Homo sapiens: one gene and its partner. The protein of the gene in region 2 purifies or fractionates together with the protein of the main gene of each other region. This does not show direct contact. Each region holds a gene or a part of one and is shown on either strand. Other genes may lie near its edges.

Region 1 (9,207 bases), on a different chromosome or scaffold from region 2:
CTTTCCTGCCACCACATATTTCCTCCCGTCTATCCCCTCTCCCTTGGATTTCCTATCCCGCATGGAACCCATGACCTATCACTTCAACCACCCTGTTGTCAGTGTCCCCAACTGTTTAGTGTTTCTCCTGTCTGTCCATCCCTAACCCTGGATTCTCCATACCTGGCTTCTGTGGCCAAGCCCCAGAGAGCCATCCATCCAACTCCACAGACCTGGTGCCACCACAAACGCATGGGTCTCCCAGAATCCTCCCTCTCCATCGGGCAGTTCCCACTTTCATTCCTCTTGGTGGCTTTCCAAACCCTCATGGTTCCCCTCAAAGCCCTTCATCATCCCCTCCCCACCCACTCTCGAGAGATGACTTTGCTTCCTACCCTGGCCCAGGGCTACTCTCTTGTCCCCTTGGGACTCCTTGGACCCTATCCCATCAGTCCTCCACTGCACAGTCTCTTCATTCTTCTTCTTCTTCTTCTTCTTTTTTTTTTTGAGATGGAGTCTCACTCTGTTGCCCAGGCTGGAGTGCAGTGGTATGATCTCAGCTCACTGCAATCTCCATCTCCCGGGTTCAAGCGATTCTCCTGCTTCAGCCTCCCGAGTAGCTGGGATTACAGGCATGCACCACCACGTCTGGCTAATTTTTGTATTTTTAGTAGAGACAGGGTTTTACCATGTCGGCCAGGCTGGTCTCTAACTCCTGACCTCAAGTGATCCACCCACCTCGGCCTCCCAAAGTGTTGGGGTTACAGGCGTGAGCCACTGCACCTGGCCGATTCTTCTTTTTTCTTAGCTCTTCTCCTCAGCCCAGCTCTAGGGAGCCTCTACATTTCCAGCCACATCTATGCTGCATGTGTCAATGACCCTAATCTTCTAATTTCGAAATCCCAGAGCATACTTTCAGGCCTCTTCTAATTTGACCATTCTGTGGCATCTGTTGCTGTTGACTGCTCTCTCTTTCAATCTCTTCTCCCTTGGGTTTGGTGACTCTTACTTGGGTTTTTGTAAACTTTCTGGCTTCTCTTCATAATGAACTTCATCTGGCCACCCCTAAAAACATTATTGGGTTCCCCAAGGGTTCTAAGTGCCTATTCTGTGTCCCCACGGCTCCTGGGCTTCCCTCTAAGGAAGCCTATAATGGTCTATCAACGTGTCAGTTTCTCTACTAGATCTAGCATCTACAAGTGCCTTCATCTCTATCCCCAGTACTCAGCCCGCCACCTGGTACTGAGTGCACAGTGATTGCTCATTAATGGTGTGGCTTGTGGCATGATGATCCCTAATCTTTGTTAGATATACAAGTGGATCAACTTTTTGGTTTTCTGTACTTCTTAACCATTTCTGTCTCCAAGAATGCAATGTCAAAAACAGAATTAAAAATCTTAGGCTGGGCATACTGGCTCATGCCTAATCCCAGCACTTTGGGATACCGAGGCAGGAGGATCATTTGAGCCCAAGGGTTCATGACCAGCCTGGGACAACACAGCAAGACCTCATCTCTACAAAAAGTAGAAAGAAATTAGCCAGGCATGGTGGCGCATGCCTGTAGTCCCAGCTACTCAGGAGGCTGAGGTGGGAGGATCACTGGAACCCAGGAGGTCAAGGCTGCAGTGAGCCATGAGTGTGCCAGTGCACTCTAGCCTGGGTGACGGAGAAAGACCCTGTTTCAAAACAAAAAATAAAATCTTAGAGCATTTTTTGGTTTGTTTAGAAATTGGTGAGAAAATAGGGATTATCTTGAAATGCAATAATTGGGAATCTTTCAAGTATATCAGAACCTATGTGGGCTTAACCTGATAGTTGAAACCTGGGTTTCAAGAGAGCCTGGCATGAGGGTTGAGGGGTTGGGGGTAGAGAAAGAGGGGAGAGTATTAGCTTGGGCTTGCATTTCTGTGACTTAAGATCCTACTCTAGGTGAAAAAATTTAGATCACTTGGTACATGCTATACATATAGAGTAGCTATCTGGGGGACAAAGTAAGGAATCTTGCTTGATATCTGAATTTAGCCTCACAATCCCTAACCTTTTTCAGAGGTACTACAATGAGTCACAGATGCCAAGCTCTAAAATCACTCTTTTAAGCATGATTTGAGCCAGGCACAGTGGCTCACGCCTGTAATCTCAGCAGTTTGGGAGAGGTTGAGGCAAGAGGATCGCTTGCACCCAGGAGTTTGAGACCAGCCCTGGCAACATGGCAAGACCCCATCTCAAAAAAGCCTGGTGGTTACGGTCATGAATGCTGGCTCTTCCTTCAACTAGCCCTGCTATCCTGGACACATCACTAATCTGTGAACTTCAGTTTCTGCATCCATAAAAAGGAGAAAATAATGGTCATATCTACCCTAAAGAGTTACTGTAAGGTTTCAGTGAACTGCTATGTTCCAGGGACTTGGCATAGTACCTGGCACATAGTAACCTCTTAATAGGTAGGAAACAGGCCAGGCGCAGTGGCTCACACCTGTAATCCCAGGACTTTGGGAGGCCGAGGCTGAGGTGGGCAGATCACCTGAGCTCAAGAGTTCAAGACCAGCCTGGCCAACATGGTGAAACCTTGTATCTACTAAAAATAAAAATAAAAAAAATTAGCCAGGTGTGGTGGCGTGTGCCTGTAGTCCCAGCTACTCAGGGAGGCTGAGGCAGGAGAATTGCTTGAAACCAGGAGTTTGAGACCAGCCTGGACAACATGGTCTCAAACTCTTGGGCTCTCCTCCTGAGCGGGGGTTGCAGTGAGCCAAGGTCACGCCACTGCACTCCCGCCTGGGCAACATGACAGAGGCTGACTCCATCTCAAAAAAAAAAAAAAAAAAAAAGGTAGGAAACATTATTGTGTTATGATATGTTCATTTATTTTTCAATGCATCCAAATTCCTCAGATTTCAAAAAGAAGGGATCCTTCTAAGTGTTCATGCTGGATCTTACTGGCTTCTAGTTTGAGATCTGGTTGGTAGTGTATTAATTAATTTAATGCTTACGTGGAGCTTGGTAGGGAAAGGAGGTTGGTGGGCACTCTGAGAGGCACATTGCCAGCTTCCAAGGACCTTTGCAAGGGGCAGCTCCAGGGCCCCTACCCTTTCTCTCTCTCTCTCCCTGAGGCAGGGGGCTGAAGATGTGGCCAAGGAGAGCTTCAGGCTGTGTCTCCATTGGTAACTGCCTTTGTTGCACATTTCCAGAAAACCACAACTGGAAACCTCTTCTGTTGGGACATGAATTCTTTTTCCTTTGGGAAGGGCAACAGAAGCAAGTGGTGATCCCAGGCAGTAATGCCTGCAGCCCAGAGACTGCATTCTCATGAGGCTGATCAATCCTTGTGCAGAGTTGTCCCTGGCAACACAACATCCATCAGAAATCACAGCACAAACAGGGTTATTGTGTGGAGGCCATTCCAAGAGCCTGAGATCTGTGTGGGAGGCAGCTGACCTGCAAGATCTAGTGGGCGAGGGCTGACCTCCAAGTCTGAGGACAATGACTTCTGGGTCAGGCAGGTGTCTGGGATACTAGGAAGGGGAGAGGAATGTTGCCAGGAGGGTAGGCAGGGCTTGCTGGCATTGGAATGAGGCACCAGAGTAGCAGGGCATTCTTCTGGGATCATGACTGGGCCTGGTGGTGAGCCGGAGTGTGTCTGCCATTAAGATATTTATGCACTGTCTCACGGGTCAGAGAACTAGCCTGGCTTCCCTCTGCTTGAGGCATCAAATCTTCTTCCTGCTTGAGGATTTCAATCTTTCAGATGTTGTTTCATCTGGGTCCAGTGCCCTTCTACACTCAGTTCTTGGCATGACTTATTCTGTTATGAGTGTCTTAGTAGGTGACCTCCTCCCTTACTAGCAAGTCTCCCAACCATATTACTAATTCTGAGGATGAAAGGAGTTTGGCTTTCATTTTGCCAATTGAATTTGAATTTCATGACTATGATAGACTCAAAACACGCACCTGAGTGTGGTCCTTGTACCACTTGCATTAGAATCACCTGGAGGGAGGGGTGTCGAAGGCCATCTCAGACTTACTGAATTACAGGTTCTGGGGTGGGACTTAGAGATCTTCATGTTAAAACCCTCCAGGATGATCTGACGTTGAAGATCTGACATTTGGGACCCACTAATGCAGGAGACACACTGACACATCTGTTTGTTGTCTTGGTCCTTTCTTGTGGTGGGTGGGAAGTGCAGAGGGGCAAGGACTACGGGGGAAGGGGGAACTCTCCCTATGTGCCAGTGCTTCTGCCAGCCAACCCAGGTTCGCAGAAGATAAATGCACAATGGGCATTGCCATCCCAGGAAGCTCATTCTAAGTGAGAATTTACCTCGAGAAGTCACTTTACCTCTCTGAGCCTCAGATATTGCCTCTCTAAAAATGAGTAGTTAATACTATATAAGTTCTAAGCTCTAAGAACTCGTGGCCAGGCGCGGTGGCTCACGCCTGTAATCCCAGTACTTTGGGAGGCTGGGTCCGGCGGATCACGAGGTCAAGAGACCGAGACCATCCTGGCCAACATGGTGAAACCCCGTCTCTACTAAAAATACAAAAATTAGCTGGGCATGGTGGCACGCGCCTGTAATCCCAGCTACTCGGAAGGCTGAGGCAGGAGAATCGCTTTAACCCAGGAGGCGGAGGTTGCAGTGAGCCCAGATGACGGCACTGCACTCCAGCCTGGCGACAGAGCGAGACTCCGTCTCAAACAAAAAAACTAGTAACAGAGTTAGTTCAGGATAGGATGTGGTAGTGTGGTAGTCAGGTGGGGGAAGTACATAATGCGGGAAACTGGGAATTTGCCTTTTTAAATCAATGTCTGCAGTTGGATGGGGATAGATACGTCTGATGGCCCTCTAAAATGCAAATCGAGTGAATTTGCCCAGGGGGATACCCCTGGTTCTCCGCGCCTCAGTCACCCCACCTCAACCCCCAGCCCTCGTCTCAAGGGCACTTGTTGCTGCTAGACTGCAGGAAGAGGAAATTAAGAAGTGCAAAGAGCTGGGGACAGTGTGCAGCCCCGTTGGGAGAGTGAAGCTTTTGTCCCCCTCACCTGGGGCTCTTCCAGGTAACCCTCCCCACCACTCCTCTCCCTAGCTCCAAGGGCGGTGGCCCCTTTAACAGACCTGACAAATCGCTCCCCCATTTCCGCGGCCTCACCTCGGCGCGCGGTAGAACTGGATTGGTTGGGCCTGGCGTGCCGTTTGCTCCGCCCCCGCGCCCTCTGGTTGGCGGCGGCGGCCGCGGGCGCGGGGCGGGTCCGCCGGCGGGGCGGGGCGGCGTGTGCCCGGGGGCGGGCGGGCGGCAGGGCAGCAGGACCGCGGCCGGTGCCCCAGCCGAAGCCGGAGTCGCGCGGCCGGGAGCACGGGCGCCGGCATAGTACAATGAGGCAGCCAGCGGATCTTGGGTGAGCAGTCTCAGGGCCAGGCGGGGGCGGTGGAGGGAGCGCCCCGCGGATAAGGCCCGGGCTGGGCGCGGATCGACCCCGCGGGCTTCAAAGTACCGGTCGGGTCCGGCGGCCCTTGGCGTGGCGGGGCTCGGCCCCCCACCCCGCTGTCATGGTTCAGGTATTGAAGGGGACGCCCACCCGCGACACCCCCGGGCAATCCCTTCCTTCGGGGCCCCGCCGGATGGCTCGGGCTCGACTCCGGCGGGAGGAGCTGCCGGCCCCGTCCCCTCAGCCTGCGGTCCCCGGCCCCGGGCAGGGAGGCACCGTCACGCGCAAACTAGAGGAAAACGGCTTGCAATTTTATGAATGGGGCCCCGGGTTCCTGCCGCCCCCCTCACCGGCGACGCGAAATGCTTGAAAGTCGAGAACCGCAGTTACTTTTACTCGAATCTGTCAGAGGTTGTATGCGCCCCGGTGGTTTTTCTCCAACTCCTGGAGAACGCGGGTGGCGGTGGGGTGGTTTGTGTGCTTTAGCAGGGAGGCGGCGGCGTGCCGAAATCCGGGGGATCGGAAGGTTAACAAGTGACATTGGGCTGAGGCCTAGCGCCAGGTGCCTTGCGGGGAGGCGGTGTGGCCGTGGACGCCGTCGCTGCTGGCTGCTGAGCACGGAAACCATACGGTGGAACCGGAGAAGGCGGGGAACGGCTGGCCACATTGCACCACACGCTGCCTAGAGCGTACGGCTGCCATGGGAGTTGGTGCAGGGGAGTCTTCCCCTTTTGAAAACGATTTTTGGAAAACTTAGCCCCTCAGTGGGTTGATAGTTACTTAAACCATCGGTTGTTATGGTTACTGGGCGTCAAATGTAAGGGCAAAGTCTGTTTCCACCCTCGCTCTTTCTCCAGAGCTATGAAGTACTTTGTCACTGTGTTTTACAGACACTGTCCAGGGAGGACATCCTTTTTTAGAGTTGAGGGAAAATTGTGGGCTCCTTGAGGGCAGGGCTCGTGCCACGTTCACGTTTGAAGTGCCAGCGTCTTCACACCATCACCGCTCTGCACATGCATTAAAAGGAATGAGGCTTTTACATGTTTTGAGGATTCTCAGAGGATTCAGAGGAGTCATTTCAGGAGCCAGGTGTAAGCTGGAGGGGAAACAACGAGTGACTTTTATATGGAAAACAATAAGGAAAAATGGAGGGCAGGTTATCCTTGAACTCTGGAGTATGGGGAGTTTGAGGAGTCTAGGTTTGTGAGTTTTAGGGCTGGGTCACACAGAGACGCTTGTCTCATATTGGAAGAATGAAACTGCCATTTCTGTTAGCTCTTACCTAGCCCATAAACAATATTCTTTCAGATTCTCCCCAAAAATGGTAGTTGGTCTAAAGTTATGGTAAACAAGCCCCCTGAGGTGATGTGGATAGAGTGGGATTTTGCCATATCATTTCTTTCTTTTTTTTCTGGGCCCCTTTGGGAGTGTGAAGGCTTGGAGGGAGAGGATGTGGAGGGCTCTGGGTGAACTGAACTTGCTTGCATGTTTATCTCCAGTAAAAGGCACTGTGCCTGAGAGGAAGGAGATTAACAAATTGATTCAGATCAGAAGATGGTGGTAATTGAGTCTACTGACAAGCAACCGAGGGGCTGGGACAGACGAGGAGGGAGGAAAAATTCAGGAGTTTGGTTTGGGCTGATTGTTGGAGGTCTGAAGAGCAAGTTATGTCATCGTGAGAGAAGATTAGACACAGCATATACCAAACATAATGTTCATTATTAGAGGTTATGTTAGAATGCTTCTGGAGAAGAAGCAGGAAAGATTAGGCTTTTCGATAGAATAAATACGTAGCATGTTTTGGACAAAAAGCAGTTGCCTGGAGTTAAAAAAGAAATTATTTATTAAAATAATAATAATTTTGCTGTATGCCAGAAACTGCTAGACATTATAGAAATGATGGAGGGTTTTTTTGTTTTTAAAGGATGAAGAGTTTGTTTCTATATGCCATATTAGTTGCCTTTCCTTCAAGTCAAATGCTTCTGTTTTCTGGAAGGTTTTCTGAATCCCTTGAGGAAAGAGAGGGGAGAACTGCACAGTTTATTACTTAATATGAGAACAGAGCAATGGGGAAATTCTCCTCACTGTAGATTACTTTCAGTATCAAAGTGAATCTTCAAAGACCAGTTTTCTGTGTCAGGTTCAATATAAAATTATATTAATCCTCACGTCTGTTGACTGGTATCTTTTGATGGAAAGTGCCTGTTCTTTCTTTTTTTCCATTTGTCAATTCATTCATTCAGAGTTAGGAAGTTCATTAAACACACACTGTCTCTTGTTCTCTAGGTGTTTCTAGTTCATTTTCTTTGCCTGAATATCCCTCAGGGTCTGCTTTCTTCTGTCTGATCCTTATCTCCTGAAGGTCTCCTTGGGAATTGCTGAGGTCACAGGGAATGCTTATTCTTTGATTCTGTCCCAAGGCAGAAGACTAGTATAGAAAAGAGAGCAGTGTTGAGTTCCAACTCAGCCAGGTACTGTTTTCTGCCCCTTATGTATATATCCTCTCCAGTCCTAGAGCAGCCCTCTAATGGAGGTGTGATAGCCTCATTTTACAGAAGAGGAAACCGAGGCTCAGAGCAAAGTAGTAACTTGCCCAAGGTGACAAGCTGGTTAGATGGTGGAGCAAGAATGTCAGTCTAGGACATTGATTCAAAAAACGTGCTTTTTGGGCCAGGCACAGTGGCTCACATCTTGTAATCCCAGTACCTTGGGAGGCCAAGGCAAGAGGTTTACTTGAGGCCAAGGGTTTGAGACCATCCTGGATGACAGAGTAAGACCCTGTGTCCAAGCAAACAAAACACACTTTTTCCATTGTACCACGTTGTTTTTCCCTGGAGAGAAATGGCAGTTTATTAGAGATGTCTCTTGCAGTGTCCTCTTGAGTGGACATGTTCAGAGTGGTCAGGTTCAGAGATGTTCAGAGAATTGCTGCACTAATGAGCTCCTGTGCTCCTGCTGGAGCCAGAGTTAGATGCCGATGTCTGTCTCTCTGCCAAGTGCAGTTTTGAGTAATTCACGAGGCTATTGGGAAATCTTTTACTGCCATGAAAAGGTGACTGGACTGACTGGGTCTGTATCCTTGTGCTCTGCTTACCAGCTCTGTGACCTTAAGGGTAAATTACTTCTCTTTCTGTGTACCTCAGTTTCTTTGTAAAGTGGGAAAATATTCCCATTTCAACAATGCTAAGACAGTGTAATTTATGTAATGTTAACATTCCTGGGGAAAAAAAGCATCTTGTAATGTATGGGGTCTTAGACTTGTAGTCAGCAGTGGCTTCCTTTTTTGGCACATAAAATAACAGTGTGTCTTATAGTCAATGGTCTTAGATGAACTAGGGTAGTATATTATTTATAGGTAGTTGTAAGAATTAAATGAGATCACTTATGTCCCTGGTTCTAGTGAGCACCCAATAACAGGTCATGCTGTCCACTGACAGGATGAATGGTTAACTGGGAAAAGCTGGGAAGCATCTCGTAAGATTTGCCACTCAACGCCTAGGCAATAATCCATGGTTTGTGGCTGGAGGAACATTTTCCAATTTGCCTAGAGCACTATCCTTTGGCTGACTCTTGTCCCTGTGAGAAACATTAACTTCAGGAGCTAACGAGCCATGGACAGACAGCTCCCTTTGTCTTCCTATTCATTAAGGTCTTTGTCAACTTTAAATCCCAAGTTTAAAGTAAATATTGTAATAAGAAGACTGGAAGCCCATGCTGTTGTGAATATTCTTACATGTGAGTTTTAAAGCAACTCATAGGTTATACAAGATTTTGTGTTGCTCCTTTCCAAACTCTTTATAATGCGTAAT
Region 2 (4,910 bases):
AATCACATGTGGCCATGTCCGAAAACACATTGGAGTTCCTGTAGGCCTTGGTCGCAGGCCCTCTTCTTTGTGTATACTCACCCTGGATGACCTCATTTAGACCTGTGGCTTTAAATAGCATCTCTCCACTGTAACTCCCAAATGTATATCTCTAGCCCAGACGTAACCCAACCTCCAGATTCTTGTGTTCAACAGGTTACTGGATATTTCCACCTAATTCACAGACATCTCAAACTTCACATGGTCAAACCACTCTTGATTTTTACTCTGCAGGCCAGCTCTGTTCCCCACTTTCCTCATCTCCGGAAATGGCACCAGCATCCCCCCAGCAGGTAAAGCTCTTTATCCCCCTTTCCCTCAGCTGGGAATCCAACCCATCAGCAAGACTTGGCAACTTTCCCTCCAAAGTATAACTCAAGCTTGCCTATTTTTCTCCATATCCATTCCCACGTCCATGCTGCCATCATCTTCCATGGCTTTACTACAGTAGATTCTGGAGTGATTTTCCAGCCTCCCTTTATGCCCCGCTCCCATCCATCCTCTATGGCAACAGTGATCTTTCAAACATAAATCAGATCTTGCCAGACCCCACAGTGAACCCTCAGTGGCACTCTCTTTCTCTTCAACGAAAATGAAGCTCCTTGCTGTGGCCTGTGAGGCCTTATGTGATCTGGCCCCTGCTCCCTCCTCCAAGCTCACTTCCCATCGCTCACTTTCCCATTCCAACCACAGGCCTCCTCTCTGCTCTTTCCCTCCTCAGGGCCTTTGCAGTTGCTGTCACCTCTCCTGGACAGGCCTTCTAGGAATTTTAATGACTCGTTCCTTCTTCTTCAAATTTCAGTTCACGAAGTTCCTCAACCGCTTAAAGTACTGTCCTGTTAACGCCACCACATCGGGCCATTTATTTCCTTCTTAGACATGATCACAGTCTGTAATCATATGATTTATTTGTTATGCATCATTGTCTGTCTCCTTTTCCAGAATGTAAGTGCCATAAAGGCCAGCGACTGTGTCTATCCTGTTCACCATTGCCCCCGGCGCATACCAAGGGACTGGTTTGTAATATACTAGTTGGGTAATCTCAAAAAAGGCTGATCCACCCACCCTACAGGAGGGTGAATAATAGAAAAGTGATCCACATGTAAGAGACTGGTCAGGAAATTCAGGTTAAGAATTTGCTATTTGTAGATGCAATTTTTGCCTTGCAAAGGGATGTGTAAATCTGTTATTTTTTTCTTCCCCTGACTGATGTAGGGCAGAAAATCGGCTTAGTTAATTCTCTACCCCAGCTTTTCTACCTATAAGGTGGCATAAGTTAATTTTTCCATGTAAAGTAACTCATACAAAAATCAAATACAATAGTTTACACACTCCCCCCTCTGAGGTGAGGCTCTGAGGTCACATTCAAACCTAATGTGGTTCTGCATGGCCCTGGCCAAAAAGAGACGCTGAGATGGGCAAGACTGCCCGGGACACTCTCAAAAGGAGTGGCAAGATTCTGCAGCAATTCCAAGGGGCTCACATTCTGTTTTAAATCCGGCCAATTAGAAATTTTTTTTCTAACTTTTCTTGTGGACTCTATCTATCTCTCATCTTCCCATGATAGACTTCATCCACTGCATTGGTGCGGTCTCACGGGTTATATGAAGAGGTAAACGCAGAAAAGGGTGACAGAAAAAAAGGTTGGATGGATTTGTCCCCCCCACTTATTTTCCATTTTTTCAAAATTAGCTTGTGTTTCTACATGAGAGAAAATCTTGTGTTGAGAGAAGTCTTAAACTGTATCCAGTAAGTGACAAAAGCAAAACCCAAAACCAAAAACTGTAGATACACTTGCTTAGAGTTTTATTTACTATGACAATTGCTAAAAAACAAATATTTCCCTACTCAATTTCTTGGAGCTAAATCAAGGTTTGCTATGTTTCCAGTAAAAACAGAAAGCTTTCCGGAGTCCATGATCTGGCCATCGTGTCATGGCTACCACTAAGGGTACAGGGATGGAATGTCCCTTTGTCGCTCCAGCTTATTGGAGGGTGGGTGGACAAATGTCGACATGGCCACTTTTGTGCAGTATCTAGGAAATGGCAAAGAACATTTTTTGAGACAGGATTGATTACTGGCTCAAGAGGATTCTTGAGAAATGTTCTGCTCTTCATGAAATTCACAGAAACGAGACATTTTCATCTGGAGCACATTATTCTGTAACAGTGGTGCTTCATCTGTTTGAGTTCCATGAGCAAAAACTATTCCGTAGAAGTAACTCTTCCATATAATTGGAAATGCTCAAAAATGCCTTCAAATTTTTAAGTCATTTTATAAAATGTAAATACTCCTCAATGTACCACCCATGTTCTTTCTTTTTTAAATGGGGCCTCTCAGATTTGGCTGCACATCGGATCACCTAGGGAGTTTTTGGGGCCATGGAGGCCCAGGTCTTGCTTCCAGAAGGTCTGATGGGTGGCCCCAGGGTGTGGTGTGGGCATCTGGAGTTTTAAATGCTCCCAGGTGGTTGGAATGCGCTGCAAGGTGGGGACACTGAATAAGGTAATGATCTAGGACATTTATCTTTTCACTCCTGAGGCTACCTGGTATTCAAGGCTTACGCACCCTGACTGATGACTGATCCCAGGTGGCCCTGAGTTGTAAGACGGTGACTGTGAGTGGGGATTGAGAGGAGGGCCAGATCCTCCAGGATTCAGAGCAGACTCGGTGCTGTGTTTGCCATTGAGTGTGCCGGCTCTTCAAGCCTTGACAGCAGGTTTTTTGACATAAAAGAACCTTCTGATAAGAAGATTGAATCCACGGGGTAGATAAGATTAAATCCATGGGGTACATGCTGGTTCATACATTTGAAAGTCAAATGTATGATAACTGGACAATCAGGTGAAGCTGGAAGATGAGATGGTTGCTGAAGACAGTAGAAGACCTTTCTAAAGCCTATTTTTGCTGTAAGAGAATTTTACAGCACAAAAATAAAAAGACATCTCCGGCCAACGTCCCAGGTGAGTGTTTGTGTCTTCAAAGATATCTGTGCAAATATATCCACAGAAACTCTCCAGAATTCCATGATCTCAAGGAAGCACTGGACGTTAGAGCAGGAAGGGACTCGCTCACTTTAGGGGTAACGACCTACTTTATTGCAGTTAAAAAAAGAAAAATTTTTTTGAGAAAAGAAATAAGACACAGAGACAAAGTATAGAGAAAGAACAGTGGGCCCAGGACCGGCGCTCAGCATGTGGAGGACCCGCACCGGCGCTGGCCTCTGAGTTCCCTCAGTATTTATTGATCATTATTTTTACTGTCTTAGCGAGGGGAGTGTAGCAGGGCAACAGGTGGGAAGAAGGTCAGCAGGGAAACATGTGAGCAAAGGAATCTGTATCACGAATAAGTTCAAGGAAAGGTACTGTGCCCAGATGTGCACGTAGGCTAGATTTATGTTTCTCTTTACCCAAACATCTCAGTGTAGCAAGGAGTAACAGAGCAGTATTGCTGCCAGCATATCTCACCTCCAGCCACAGGGCGGTTTTCTCCTATCTCAGAATAGAACGAATGGGAATGGTCAGCTTTTTACACCGAGACATTCCATTACCAGGGACAAGCAGGAGACAGAAGCCTTCCTCTTATCTCAACTGCAAAGAGGCCTCCCTCCTTCACTATTCCTCCTCAGCACCGACCCTTTACAGGTGTCGGGCTGGGGGACAGTCAGGTCTTTCCCTTCCCATGAGGCCATATCTCAGGCTGTCTCAGTGGGGGGGAAACCTTGGACAATACCCAGGCTTTCTTGGGCAGAGGTCCCTGCAGCTTTCTGCTGTGCATTGTGTCCCTGGTTAATCGAGAATGGAGAATGGCGATGACTTCTACCAAGCATACAGCCTGCAAACATATTGTTAACAAGGCACATCCTGCACAGCCCTAAATCCATTAAACTTTGATTCATTACAGCGCATGTTTCTGTGAGCACAGAGTTGGGGCTAAAGTTATAGGCTAACAACATCTCAAAGCAGAAACAATTTTTCTTAGTACAGATCAAAATGGAGTTTCTTATGTCTTCCTTTTCTACACAGACACAGTAACAATCTGATCTTTCTTTTCCCCACATGGACTAATGCGATATCATAGATATGGTGTGTCTTCAGTTACAAGATGCTCTGTTTGAATTATATACATTTTAGAAAACTATGTACAGATGAATAATTTAAAATTAATTGTAAGTGGTATTTGTGGTCTTGATAGAGTTGGCCACGATGTCCAAATGTAATATTAAGCCTATGGGAAAGTCAGAGCCACTTTTTTTTTTTTTTTTTTTTGAGTCAGAGTCTTGCTCTGTCGCCCAGACTGGAGTGGAGTGGCATGATCTTGGCTCACAGCAACCGCCACCTCCTAGGTTCAAATGATTCTTGTGCCTCAGCAGCCAGAGTAGCTGGAATTACAGGCCTATGCCACCACTCCCAGCTAATTTTTTTGTATTTTTAGTAGAAATGGGGTTTCGCCATGTTGGCCAGGCTGGCCTCAAACTCCTGACCTCAAGTGATCCACCCACCTTGACCCCCAAGGTGCTAGGATTACAGGCGTGAGCCACCGTGCCCAGCTGAGATCCACTTTCATTCTCACCTCACAGTGGCTCCTGACTCCTTTTCCAATGCACCAAGACACACACCACGGAGGGATGTCTGCACAGACTTCTAATGTGGTTTGGGGTTGCAAACTGTAGTTGGGGCAATTTTTTGTAGAGAGGTCTGGTCCTGGACCCACCGTCAGAGACCTTAGAGAAAGGATCCCTTTGGGGGTCCCAGACAAAGATCTTCTTTCTTTATAACTTGTCATCCTAAGATTTAAAGGGTGGAAGGGGAACACAGAAATTGCATATTCACTACAACTCAAAAAAGAAGAGAATTAATTTTGCACCACTG

Evidence for each region. The genes of interacting proteins can lie anywhere in the genome.
Region 1: the proteins of SLC6A20 (region 2) and TEX2 purify together in Homo sapiens (affinity purification with mass spectrometry; 2 studies listed by BioGRID and IntAct, with this or other methods). This does not show direct contact.

What each region holds. Positions count from the first base shown.
Region 1 is NC_000017.11:64,259,329-64,268,535, reverse strand, and holds the start of TEX2 (testis-expressed protein 2), read left to right. Parts: upstream 1-5,275; 5' UTR 5,276-5,368; exon of another isoform or gene 5,369-5,809; intron 5,810-9,207. UniProt on the Homo sapiens protein: During endoplasmic reticulum (ER) stress or when cellular ceramide levels increase, may induce contacts between the ER and medial-Golgi complex to facilitate non-vesicular transport of ceramides from the ER to the Golgi complex where they are converted to complex sphingolipids, preventing toxic ceramide accumulation.
Region 2 is NC_000003.12:45,753,627-45,758,536, forward strand, and holds the end of SLC6A20 (sodium- and chloride-dependent transporter XTRP3), read right to left. Parts: 3' UTR 4,826-4,910; coding exon of another isoform or gene 4,811-4,825; 3' UTR 1,823-4,810; downstream 1-1,822. UniProt on the Homo sapiens protein: Mediates the Na(+)- and Cl(-)-dependent uptake of imino acids such as L-proline, N-methyl-L-proline and pipecolate as well as N-methylated amino acids.